3 linked regions of the Homo sapiens genome follow. The protein of the gene in region 3 interacts with the protein of the main gene of each other region in a biochemical or structural test. Each region holds a gene or a part of one and is shown on either strand. Other genes may lie near its edges.

What was found.
Region 1: the proteins of TMA16 (region 3) and NEDD4L form a complex in vitro, tested with the Homo sapiens proteins (one large-scale study listed by BioGRID).
Region 2: the proteins of TMA16 (region 3) and IKBKG form a complex in vitro, tested with the Homo sapiens proteins (one study listed by BioGRID and IntAct).

The regions. Positions count from the first base shown.
Region 1 is NC_000018.10:58,047,226-58,050,725, reverse strand, and holds part of NEDD4L (E3 ubiquitin-protein ligase NEDD4-like), read right to left. Parts: exon of another isoform or gene 3,216-3,500; intron 1-3,215. UniProt on the Homo sapiens protein: E3 ubiquitin-protein ligase that mediates the polyubiquitination of lysine and cysteine residues on target proteins and is thereby implicated in the regulation of various signaling pathways including autophagy, innate immunity or DNA repair.
Region 2 is NC_000023.11:154,550,620-154,554,119, reverse strand, and holds part of IKBKG (NF-kappa-B essential modulator), read right to left. Parts: intron 2,133-3,500; coding exon of another isoform or gene 2,118-2,132; coding exon 1,931-2,117; intron 1-1,930. UniProt on the Homo sapiens protein: Regulatory subunit of the IKK core complex which phosphorylates inhibitors of NF-kappa-B thus leading to the dissociation of the inhibitor/NF-kappa-B complex and ultimately the degradation of the inhibitor.
Region 3 is NC_000004.12:163,507,449-163,512,741, reverse strand, and holds part of TMA16 (translation machinery-associated protein 16), read right to left. Parts: intron 1-5,293. UniProt on the Homo sapiens protein: Involved in the biogenesis of the 60S ribosomal subunit in the nucleus.

The sequences.
Region 1 (3,500 bases), on a different chromosome or scaffold from region 3:
ACAATGGCCCGAACTTGTCTCACTGCAACCTCTGCCTCCCAGGTTCAAGCAATTCTCCTGCCTCAGCCTCCCGAGTAACTGGGATTACAGTTGCCTGCCACCAAGCCCAGCTAATTTTTGTATTTTTAGTAAAGACGGAGTTTCACCATGTTGGCCAGGCTGGTCTCAAACTCCTGACCTCAGGTGATCCTCCAGCCTCGGCCTCCCAAAGTGCTGGGATTACGGGCATGAGCCACTGCCCCAGCCTGTTATTATTGTGACAGAGTCTCACTCTGTCACCCAGTCTGGAGTGCAGTGGTGCGATCTCGGCTCACTGCAATCTCTGCCTTCAGGGTTCAAGCTATTCTCCTGCCTCAGCCTCCAGAGTAGCTGGGATTACAGGTGTCCACCACCACACCCAGCTGATTTTTTTTTCATTTATTTATTTATTTATTTTGTAGAGACAGGGTTTCACCATGTTGGCTGGGCTGGTCTCAAACTCCTGACCTCAAGTGATCCACCAGCCTTGGCCTCCAACGTGCTGGGATTACAGATGTGAGCCACTATGTCTGGCCTGAGCAAAATTATTTTTATTCCTTAAATTAAGGAAACTGATGTTCAATAATGAAATAAACAATCATAACATTCTGATTTAATAAAACTAAATATAATGAAAATTCAAATGTCAATGTCTACAAATTCCACAGACACTACATCATTGAAGAAAATAAATTCTATTCATTAGTCTTTTTTTTTTTTTTTTTTTTTTTGGAGACAGGGTCTCACTCTGTCGCCCAGGCTAGAGTGCAGTGGCATGATCTTGGCTCACTGCAACCTCTGCCTCCAGGTTTAAGTGATCCTTCCACCTCAGCCTCCCAAGTAGCTGGGACTACAGGCACGTGCCGCCATGTTTGGCTAACTTTTCTATTTTTTGTAGAGACGGGGTTTCACCACGTTGCCCAGCCTGGCCTCAAACTCCTGAACTCAAGTGATTCTCCTGCCTCGGCCTCCCAAAATGCTAGGATTACAGGAGTGATCACTGCACCCGGTCCCTATAATCAAATTTTAAAACAACATGTTATATTCATGAATTTTAAAAACTGATTTTAAATGTCACCATGAAAACTAGGTCCTTTTAACATTTGTTTCTCAAACATTACCTATATGTCCTGGGTATACAGTCTACCATCCAGCATCTAGGCCCGACACAGGCACTTGGACTTGGCATGACTGGGCAAGCCTTCTCTCTCTTCAGAAAACGGCCTGTCAGCATTCACCTTGAGATCCAAGCAAAATCTAAACCACAATTTTTGAAAGCAATCTTGTCCTCACCGTTTTGCACAGCTGCAAAGATGGCACATAGGGTTTCCCAAGTAATCTCTTGAAAATACACACAGGCCACTTTTTAAAAACTAACAACTATTCTTAATCACTTACAGACGGCCATCCAGTTGGCTATGATCTAGGCCCCCAGTTCCTTCTGTGCTAATGCCTATTTAAGAGCACTTCTCTTTTTCTAGCACTTTCCTCAAACACAGAAAAGCAGAAATCTGACTACTCGTTGACTTAAAAGTACTGAATGATTGGGGATATTGAAACTGATGGCATGGAGTTTTCCCAGGTTTCTAGTCACTGTAATTCATCAATTCTAAAATATCCTTTTTCTCATATTTCAACTTCTCTGAAATAAGGATGCTTCATAAGATGGACAGTATGTCATAACTTGACAGCAATTTTTTCTTCGTGGTACATGAAATAATGGCATATCTTAAAAGTGACAGCACACTAAAGTGAAAGAAATATGGCATCCACGCCAAAGGTTAGCCTTAAAGGTTTGTTATGAAGTGGATAATTATATGTAAACAAGTAGAAAGACCCCTAAGACAACAGAAAGTAGTGGTGACTGCAACCATAGCACAACTAGCTGCCACATCTCAAAGGACATAATGCCAGCCACTGACTGTAACTAGGTTAGAATGTGGCCCCAATTAAGCCAGATTTTTACCATTTTCATGAAATTTCCAAGCTTTAAAACACTCTAGAGACCACATTAAGCAGGGTTCCTGGTCAAATCGGGCCCAGCAGCCATCAGTTTGCAACCAGTGGTGTTTATTTCTCTTACATTATCTTAAATAATCTAGATAGTAAGACCTTTCAAGGCATTTGTCAGAAGGGGAGGATATTCAGCATGTTAAAAACTAGGCCTTTCTATTCAAAATAGCTGGCTCCATAACTTAACTTGTTTTGTGTCCTTATGCAGGTCACGTAACCTCTTTGAGCTTTCATTCCTCATCTGTAAATCACAGCCTACCTCACACAGTTCTCATGAGAACTAAATGACATAGTATGTGCACAAGGCTTAGCACTTTGCTCTCATGGCGCATCTTAAAAGTGACAGCATCTTAAACTGAAAAGCATACAGGATCCATGCCAAAAGTTAACCTTAATGGTTGATTAAGAAGTAGATAATTATATGTAAATGAGTAGAAAGACCCCCAAGCCAGCAGGGAGCCGTGGTGACTGGCACCTATAAGCAGATCTGCCACATCTCAAAGGACATAATGCAAGCCACTGATTGTGACTAGGCTAGAATGTGGCCCCAATTAAGCCGGATTTTTACCATTGGTATAGAAGAGGCATTCAAAAGTAGCCAACTATCCGTGTTTGTACAGGATAAGGAGAGAAGGTGCCATTTATCCTATGTCAGCCTGGCCTTCATTTCTATGCCATTTGCTTCATTTTAACTACTAACGAAATTACTTAATGTCATATCTAATGTGATAAGAAGCTGCCATTCAATCCCAGTATTTTGTTCAGTAGAAAAATCTTTTCAATAAATGATACCTTTCTAAAATGGAATAAAAGATTTCAGAAAGTTAGCGGTAACATTCATAAGTAAACTATGCCAAAATGCACTACAGATTGCCAAAAATAAAGAAATAAAACAAGAAATCCACAAGGACTCAAGCCAGATGCAGAAACTAGTCCAAAGTGTTCTGATTCCAAACCAAATCTGATCTTGGGCCATGAATCAGAAGTTTTGTTAAACTGCTAATCCCTCTAACACCAAAAGTCCTTCATCTGATGGTTTTGAATCTGGCTACCTAAAGTGACATGACTTAAATCAGGGTAAATATGAATTATAACTCACCAGAGAAACCTCCGCCCGAAACACACAGAAAAAATTAAACAGCACATACATTCACACAAGCAAAGCCCACATCTCAACCCCTTACCTTCTACAAAGTGGACAGACCTCTGCTGATGACGCAAGGAACAGCACCTAAGCCCTGTGCTTTGGCATCCCCGTTTTCTGGGTTCATGCAATGCTTCATCATCAGCAGTGCAGAGAGCTCAACAGTCTTTATGAGATGGGACATAACTAAGTGCACTCCAAACATACCATGCTTTTCAACAATCTCAAATCAAAATACGAATCTACTTTTAAGAAATGTGGTAGGTATGTGTGTCTACTTTGCTAAAAGATTTATGAGGTCACTCTTCTAAATAGCGGTCAAAAT
Region 2 (3,500 bases), on a different chromosome or scaffold from region 3:
CTTGGCCCAGGGCCTGACACATGGAGCTACCAAGTTTCACCTGCCACCCACAAAGCTCAGGTCAGGCGGAGCAGGGGGAGTCAATACAGCCTTGAGGCCTCCTTGTGTCCCTGGAGCCCGAGGGAAGCTGCTGCACTGAACACACAGCCTGGAAGGGAAGCAAGGGCGCCATACGCTGTGCCAGGGTCCCTGCACAGCTGGCCTGCAACACTCACCCTCAAGTCCCCCTCAATAGAGCACTCTCCTGGGGATGAGCAGAAGCCCCCAGTCTAACTGTCACCTCTCTGTGCACCAGTGCTTTGAAGATCCCAATACAGTGGGTCTCACCAGGGACAACTGTATCCCCCAGGGGTCATTTGGCAATAAATATCTGGGGATATTGTTAGTTGTCACAACAGGACAGGTGCTACTGGCATCTAGCAGGTACAGGCCAGGGACTCTGCTCCACACCCTACAACGTACAAGAGAATTCTCCAGCCCCAGGTGCCGATGGCACTGAGGTGGGGGACCCTGTCCTGGAACAGGCAGGTCATGTTGGGTCTCCATGCTCCAGCAGGGCCTCTCCAATTCAGCCTCACCGTCGAGGAGACCAAGCAGCCCCCTGACAGCAAGCTGACTGCACTGACCCCTTCCTCCATGGAAGGAAAGGTGATTTGCCTTGACAGTAAGAGGAGACACATCGCAGGCATGGGTCTTGTCTCTGCCCACGGGGTGTCAGCCAGAGCCACTCTCTGAAGCCTACAGACTATGTGACTTGTCAGCACAGAGCCCCACATAACATCTCGGACCACAGTCCAGCAAAGAAGGCGGGGGAGTGGGCCCATGACAGCGATCTCTAGTAGTCACGGCACATGCCACCTCGCCCAGGAGCTGCCAGCCAGCCAGGACACGGAGAGCCAATTGAAGCTGCCAGCTCAGGGATGACTCCTGCAAGGAAGGGGTGTTGTCCTCCACGATGGGGTGGACACTTAGGCCTGAGTCCCCAGCAGGAACCAAAGGATGAAACAAAAAGGGCTACAGGCCCCACCACACCCAGTGAGCCATGTGGGGAGTCTATGCCGCCCCTCCCTGCAGCTCTGGGACCCGAGGCTTAGAAGGCCCCCGCAGCAGAAAGGCAAGAGTATATGGCGGGTGCCACCTGGCCCCGCCAGGCTAACCCAGGGCAATGCAGAGCAGTGGCAGGGAGAGGGGGTGAGGGGGAAGAATGGCAGGGGCTGGGGGTGCCATCACGCCCAGGGCGCGGGCAGGAGCGTGCAGCTGAGCCCTGAACCCATGACGACCTGGAGCTGAGCAGCAAGAGGGTGAGGGGCGCCCGGATGGCAGTCTAGGAAAGAACTCCCCAGTCCCAGCCACTGGGTGTGGGAAGTCAGCCTTCACCTCCGCTGAGGTGTGCGCCGGGATTGCCCCAGAGGAATGTTGCCTGTGGGGGCCACGCACCTTCCTTCCCAAGACAGACCACGCCCCTCTACCAGGGCATGCCCCGCCCATTTCCAGGACAGGCCCCACCCCCTCTCTGGGCAGACCACGCCTCTTCCCAGCGCCGACTCTGCCCTGTCCCAGGATGGACAGCACTTCATGAGTGCTCAGTGCAGGGACACAGAGGCCTGGACATGTTGGTCCAACCTGGAAGGTTCATTCCAGCTCCAGAGCTCCCTGTAAGATCCAGCAAGGCTGTCCTGGAGCCTACCCGGCAGCGTGCTTCTCCCTCTGCCCTCCCTGGCTTCTTCCCCTGTCCCTCCTTTCCCTTCCCAGTACTGGTCCTGAGAGCATGCTAAACTTCCTCCCCGCTAATCTGCATCTCAGAGTCTACTTCCTGAAACCAAGAGGGAGGGCAGCACATCCCCACCCCAGGCCCAGGAAACGCAGAGGTGCAGGTGGGGAGAAGACGCCTTCCCCTCAGCAGGGCTGGATCCCCTGACTCTTTCCTCACCTCGGAGCTCTTGATTCTCCTCCAGGCAGCGCTGGAGGGTCTCAGGAGCGCCCTGTTCTGAAGGCAGGTGCAGCATGGCTGGCTTCCCCAGAGGAGACTCTTCGCCCAGTACGTCCTGATCTGCTGCCGGGCCACCACTGGGCTGCACCATCTCACACAGTTGGCTCTTCCAGAGGTGCCTATTCATCCAACAGGGCAAGGGCTGAAAGAGAAAGGCAGCAGGGGAGTCACAGGAGACCCACATCCTTACCCAGCAGAAAAAGCCTATGAGTTCTGGGGCTACATTTTAAACAGAATGCTGATAATTCACCTAGTGTATCAGGATGCTAAAGTGGGTTTTCAGTCTAAGGGGTAGCAGATACTCCCATTCCAAAGGGAGGTGCTGGACCACCCATGTGGGACTTGAAAAGGCCTAGCTCCAGGCTGGAAATAGAAGAATTTCACCAGAGATGGGAGAGTCGGGACAAGACTGTTTGTGGAGGGAGATGTCAGTATGCTGGGAATCCTGATCCCCTACACACCTCCAAGCAGGAGAAGTGGAGGGTACCGGCCCCTCATCCAGTGTAGTGGGCTGAATGGTAGCCCCCCGAAAAGATATGCCCATGTTCTAACCCCTGAAACATATGTGATTCGGGAAAAGGGTCTTTGCAGATGTAGGATCTCAAGATGAGATCATTCTGGGTGACGTGGGTGGGCCCTAAATCCAACAACGTGTCTTTATGAGAGACAGAAGAGAGAAGCCAGAGGGAGACGCAAGGGGAGGAGGCCATGTCGGGACTGCCTCGGAGACTGGAGTGAGGCAGCCACAAGCCCAGGAATAAATGGGGCAGAAGCTTGGGAGAGGCAAGGGAGGATTGCCCTCTTAGAGCCTTTGAGGGTGTGTGCTTGCTAACCCTTTGGTTTTGGACTTCTAGTCTCCAGAACTGTGAGATTAAAATGTCTGGCCGGGCGCAGTGGCTCACACCTGTAATCCCAGCACTTTGGGAGGCCGAGGCGGGCCAATCATGAGGTCAGGAGATCGAGACCAGCCTGGCTAACACGGTGAAACCCTGCCTCTACTAAAAAAAAAAAAAAAAATTGCCGGTCACGGTGGCTCACGCCTGTAATCCCAGCACTTTGGGAGGCCGACACGGGTGGATCATGAGGTCAGGAGATTGAGACCATCCTGGCTAACACAGTGAAACCCTGTCTCTACTAAAAATACAAAAAATTAGCCAGGCATGGTAGCGGGCGCCTGTAGCCCCAGCTACCCAGGAGGCTGAGGCAGGAGAATGGCGTGAACCCGGGAGGCAGGAGAATGGCGTGAACCCGGGATCGCGCCACTGCACTCCAGCCTGGGCAACAGAGCGAGACTCCATCTCAAAAAAAAAAAATACAAAAAATTAGCAGAGTGTGGTGACACGCGCCTGTAGTCCCAGCTACTCGGGAGGCCGAAGCAAGAGAATCGCTTGAACCCAGGAGGCGGACGTTGCAGTGAGCTGAGATTGTGCCACTGCACTCCACCCTTGGCTTTCAGAACAGCCCCTTCTCCTGGTTTCCTCCCTATCTTGCTGGCTACTCCTGCCCAGGC
Region 3 (5,293 bases):
AACTGCCTAAAGAACTCTAATTAAAAGGTCATTCTTTTACAAATTTGAGAATAATTTTGTTAACAGAAACATTAAATACTATGCTTCTCTTTTGAATCACTAGAATTTTATCAGAAACTTCCTTTAAGCACCTCAATGTCTAAAGGAAGCCTATAGAACAAACCAGTTTTGAAAACACAACTGAAAGCTTTTCTGAATTGTGAACATTCAGATGGGTTCTGTAATATGCAGAATACTTGAGCACAAGAGTAATGCAAACCTTCTGGAAGACTGAGTACTGCCACCAAGATCAAAATGCACTACTGTCATCTTTTAAATTTCAATAAGAACAAAACAGAATGGTTACTTTCAATGAATTTGAAAAGAATTATAACAAACAAAAATTTCATCTATGCTCAGAAAGTGTATAGGTAACACATGCCTCCTATTACTGATATTCTAAACACTTACTCATTCAGGAGACCTCTGGATACCAAGTCTTTGCCAGACTTTAGTTTCTGATAGCCCCAAAGGATACAGCCATGAACAAAAAAAATTCACTGTCCCTGTCCTGAAAAACCTTAAAATCTAAGGGCAATAAAAACATGGAGAAGCATACAGAGCTATAAAAGCATATTTAAAAAGCACCTACCATATGTTTTAGGATTTGGGAAGGTTTTCCAGAGAAGTAAATTTTAAGCTGAGACCTGAACATACAGAGAAGTTATTCAGGATTAAAAAAAAAAAAAGATAGGGACTACGGGAATGGTAAAAGAAAAATCTTAGCCATAGGAGAAGGCTTTGTATAAAGCAGGAAGTATACATGGCTTTTATCCACAAAGAAGTAAGCAAACCAGATTTATCCTCCCATTTTACACAACTAGAAAACTGGAGAAATAAAATGAAATCTTTTGTTATTATTATCATTATTATCATTAGAGACAGGGCCTCACTGTGTAGCTCGAGCAGGACTGCAGTAGTGCTGTCATTGCTCACCACAGCCTCAAACTCCTGGGCTCAAGCAACCATCCTGCCTCAGCCTCCCATGTAGTTAGGACTACTGTTATATACCACCATGCCTGGCTACTTTTTTTTTTTTTTTTACTTTTATTTTTGTAGAGACAGAGTCTCACTGTGTCACCCAGGCTCGTCTCAAACTCCTGGCCTCAAGCGGTCCTCTCACCTTGGCCTCCCAAAGCACTGGGATTACAAGGATGAGCCACCATACTAGGCCAAAACCTTCTTTATATAAAATTTTTAAGTTACAGATTAGGAGAAAATATTCATAACACAAATAACAAAGGACTTGTATCTAGAATATATAAACAGTCCTTACTACTTAACAACAGATTAACCCAGTACCAAAAAGGCAAAAGATTCGGACAGATTCTCCATCAAGAAAACACAAATGACCAAAAAGAACCTAAAAAGATGCTCAACATCATTAGTCATCAAGAAATGAAAATTAAAACCACACTGAAATACCACTATACACCTACTAGATTGGCTAAAATTAAAGAGAAAAAAAAAACCCTGACAACATAACATGTCAAAGAGGATATACAGCAAATAGAACTCTCATACTCTGGTGGTGAAAATGTAAAATGGTACTATCACTTTGAGAAAGGTAATTTCATATATACTTAAATATACACCAAATGATCCAGCAATTCTTATATACCCAAATTCTCATATACTTAAGCAAACATCTTAAGTGTGTTAACCTAACGTCTTATAAACTGAATTTCTTATAAACTCAAACATCTACCCAACAATTATAGTTCTAGGAAGTAAAAGAAAAATGAAAACGTATGTCCACACAAACACCTGTACATGAATGTTTTACAGGAATGAACTTTATTCCTAACAGCAGAGGTTGACAATATTTTCTTCAATGGTCAAGTAGTCACATTTTAGGCTTTGGGGGCTGTGTACCTGTAACAATTACTCAGCTCTGCCACTGCAGCATGAATGCAGCTATAGAAAACACAAAAGGAACCAGCATTGATGTTTTCCAACAAAACTTTTCGTAATAACAGGTGGCTAATGCCTTAGCTTGCCGACCTCTGATAACAGCCAAAAATGAAAATATAACCAAACGAACATAGACAGTGAATGGATAAGCAAGGTGCATATCCAGTGAATGGATATAAATAAATTGCCTGAGGATGGAATAATACTCCCAATAAAAGGAAAGAACAACTAATACATAAAATGACATGGATAAGTCTCTCAAACATTATGCTACGTGAAAGACGCTGGCACAAAAAACCACATACAGCATGATCCCATTTATATTAAACATTAGAAAGATAAATCTCACCTATCAAAATAAAGAGCAAATTAGTGGCTGCCCGAGGCTAGGGGTAGAGGGTGAGGACTGACTGGGAAGATACACAAGGGAATTTTCTAGGAAGATGAAATTGTATACTACATACTGATCAGGGTGGCTACACCAATGTATACAATTGTCAAAACCCAAAAACTACACTTAAAATGTGTTCGCTTTATTATATATTAATTATACCCCAAAGTTGATCTTAAAAAACAAAGAACACTTCATAAAAAGTTGGAGAATGGCTCTGAGGGGAATTTCTTCCTTTTAAATAAGGCTGGAGGGAAGAATCTAGTTAGAAGTCAAGTTGCAATAATTCTGAATGGACTCAGTGGGAACCTGAACTTACAGTGGTATCAGCTGGAATGAAGAAAAGTAGAGAGATGTGAGAATTATTTAAAACAGTACTTGCATGTAAATATGAAAAAATTCTTAAAACAATATGTAAACATGAGTTTTAAAGAGAATCAATAAGATTAATTCTCAAAGGTAGTTGTTTCTGAGATTCTTACCCATCATGCTTAGTTTCCTTTGTTAATCTTCCATTAGGAGTCATTTTCATTTGCTATCTAGAATTATTTGCCAAAATGTTGCTATACTGTGAAATCATAAAACAAAAATCACATCATATCAAAGAGCCACTTGCTGCTTGTAAATTGTTCATTGTCGGGAATGTGCTAGTCTTCAAACCATCCTAGTTCCTGTCATACAGTCCTAAATCAGAGCTTTTCAAATGTTGAAGATAAAGAATATGCTTGAACTTTTACTCTAGCATTGTTATCCACTCCTACAGTATCTTTTCTGAGGTCTGCCAACAGCCATGTGAGGAAGCTTGGAAGCAGAAATTCTCCCTAGCAAGCTCTGAGATGAATGCAGTCCCAGACAACAGCTTAGCTGCAGGCTTGTGAAAGATGCTGGGTCAGAAACACCCAGTTAAGTGGCAACGGGATTCCTACCTGATCCAGAAACTGTGTTTGTTTTAAGCTGCTAAATTGTAGCAGAATTTCTTATGCAGCAACAGTTACTAAAACAACATCTGGTAACTGCTATTCATTTCTAAGAAGCCACAGGTACCCAAGTTCAAGTTGTCCTGTTGGTACCTTCTTCAATCACCTTGCTTAAAGTTGTCCCAACCATCTGGGTATCTTGTCACCAATCATCTTTTGAAATGGGGCAGGGAATCAGCAGCGTTTCAACGTGCCTTTTGTGACCACATTCCCATTTAAAGTTAAGTATGACTCGTGGTTACTGATGCTGCTACTCAAAAAACTGACATCTATAGTGGCCTAAGCCTATGATTTCATAACATAAAATAATGTTAAGTACTATTAAAATTGTATATTTGGTTCTAGAGCCATGACTACTAAGAGAGTGACTTTTTGAAAATAAATTTTAAAAAGGGAAAAAATCCAATCTATTTAGAACATTGTCTAAGCAGAAAAATTAAGTGCTTTCTACTCTGCATTACTAAAATAAAAGTCTTGGCCAATAAACAGAATTTTCTTAGGACAATATATACATATCAGATTAGCATGTTGTTCTGTTTTATTCTTCCATAATTTTTCTATAACGCTAATTCTGTAAATCAATACACAACATGCTGAATATACCTGACAACATACAAACATTGTAGGCTCACGGTCACAATGACAGTGAACCAAGTACTTAATCATATTCTAAAGCAGTTACTTGCTAAAATATTGCATATCATACCACTGGTACTATATGTAAGGTAAGCAGTTCATAGACACAGAATTAAACAATCTTTAATAAAATGGTAAGCACGTTGCTTCCCCTTCCTCCATTTTCTTTTGATCCTTTCACTTTACATTAAGGACAAAAGTGTGGGTTTGTTTTACCAGTCTTCCAACCTTCACCAGATCTTTTCACCAAACATATACAAAAGTTATGTCTCAGCCTCAGACCATTTACAGCAGGTAATAGTATCTATTTGATTTTAAGAGAGAAAAAATATCTCCTTTTTAAAAAATGGTACTTAAGGGAAAATAAATAATAGTATAGGTCAGTGATTCTCATAGTGTGGTCCCTAAACCAGCAGCAACAGCACCAGCATTACCTGGAGACTTGTTGGAAGTGGAAACCCTTAAGCCAGAAACCCAAACCTTCAGAATAGAAAATTCTAGGGGTTGGAACAAACAGTTTTAATAAGTTCTACAGATGTATTTCATGTACTTAAGTTTGCAAAATACTGATATATATGAGAGCAGAAACTGCAAAATCACAGTACTAATAAATCATATTAAAAAGATACAGCAAAAATCATAAAAGTGATGCATAAATAGCTGAAGTTTGAAAACTACTGTGCTAAAGCAAAACTGCTATCATCACAGTAAATCTTTATGTTGAAAAAAATAAAAAACTACCCTGCAGAAAATAAAGAAAATTTGACTCTGCTATCACAACACTTATTTCCTTCTAGCCAAATCACTGTGAAACAGGTAACCTTTACTATATAAAGCTTATCTTAAGCAAAGAATCAACATTTAAAAATATACTGGCTTCCATTATCTGGTATGCAAATGTATCTAACATTCATGAAAATGGCAAGGGCATTCTAAAATAGTCAAAACGATGATGTTTATTTGAACTTCACTTCATTTTAAGGAATCTTTGAAACAGCCTTCTTTCTCCTCCTTCTCAGTCTCACTTGTGGAATGCTCCTTCTTTTCCTAACCTCTAAATGGTAGAGGGCCACTGAACTCAGTAATTGGCTCTCTTCTCTTTCCTGTCAACAGTTACTCCTTAGGTGAACTGATCCTATCCAGTCTCACGGCTTGAAATCCCACATGGATGCTGATCGCTCCCAAATTTGTGTCAATACCCCTAACCTATTCTCTGAACACTAGACTCAACATATCTAACTATCCATTCCATATCTCCTCTTACATGTCTCATGGGCACTTTAACCTACATGCCTTATATACAGACCTCACATTTTTCAACTCTCTGTTCAAATGT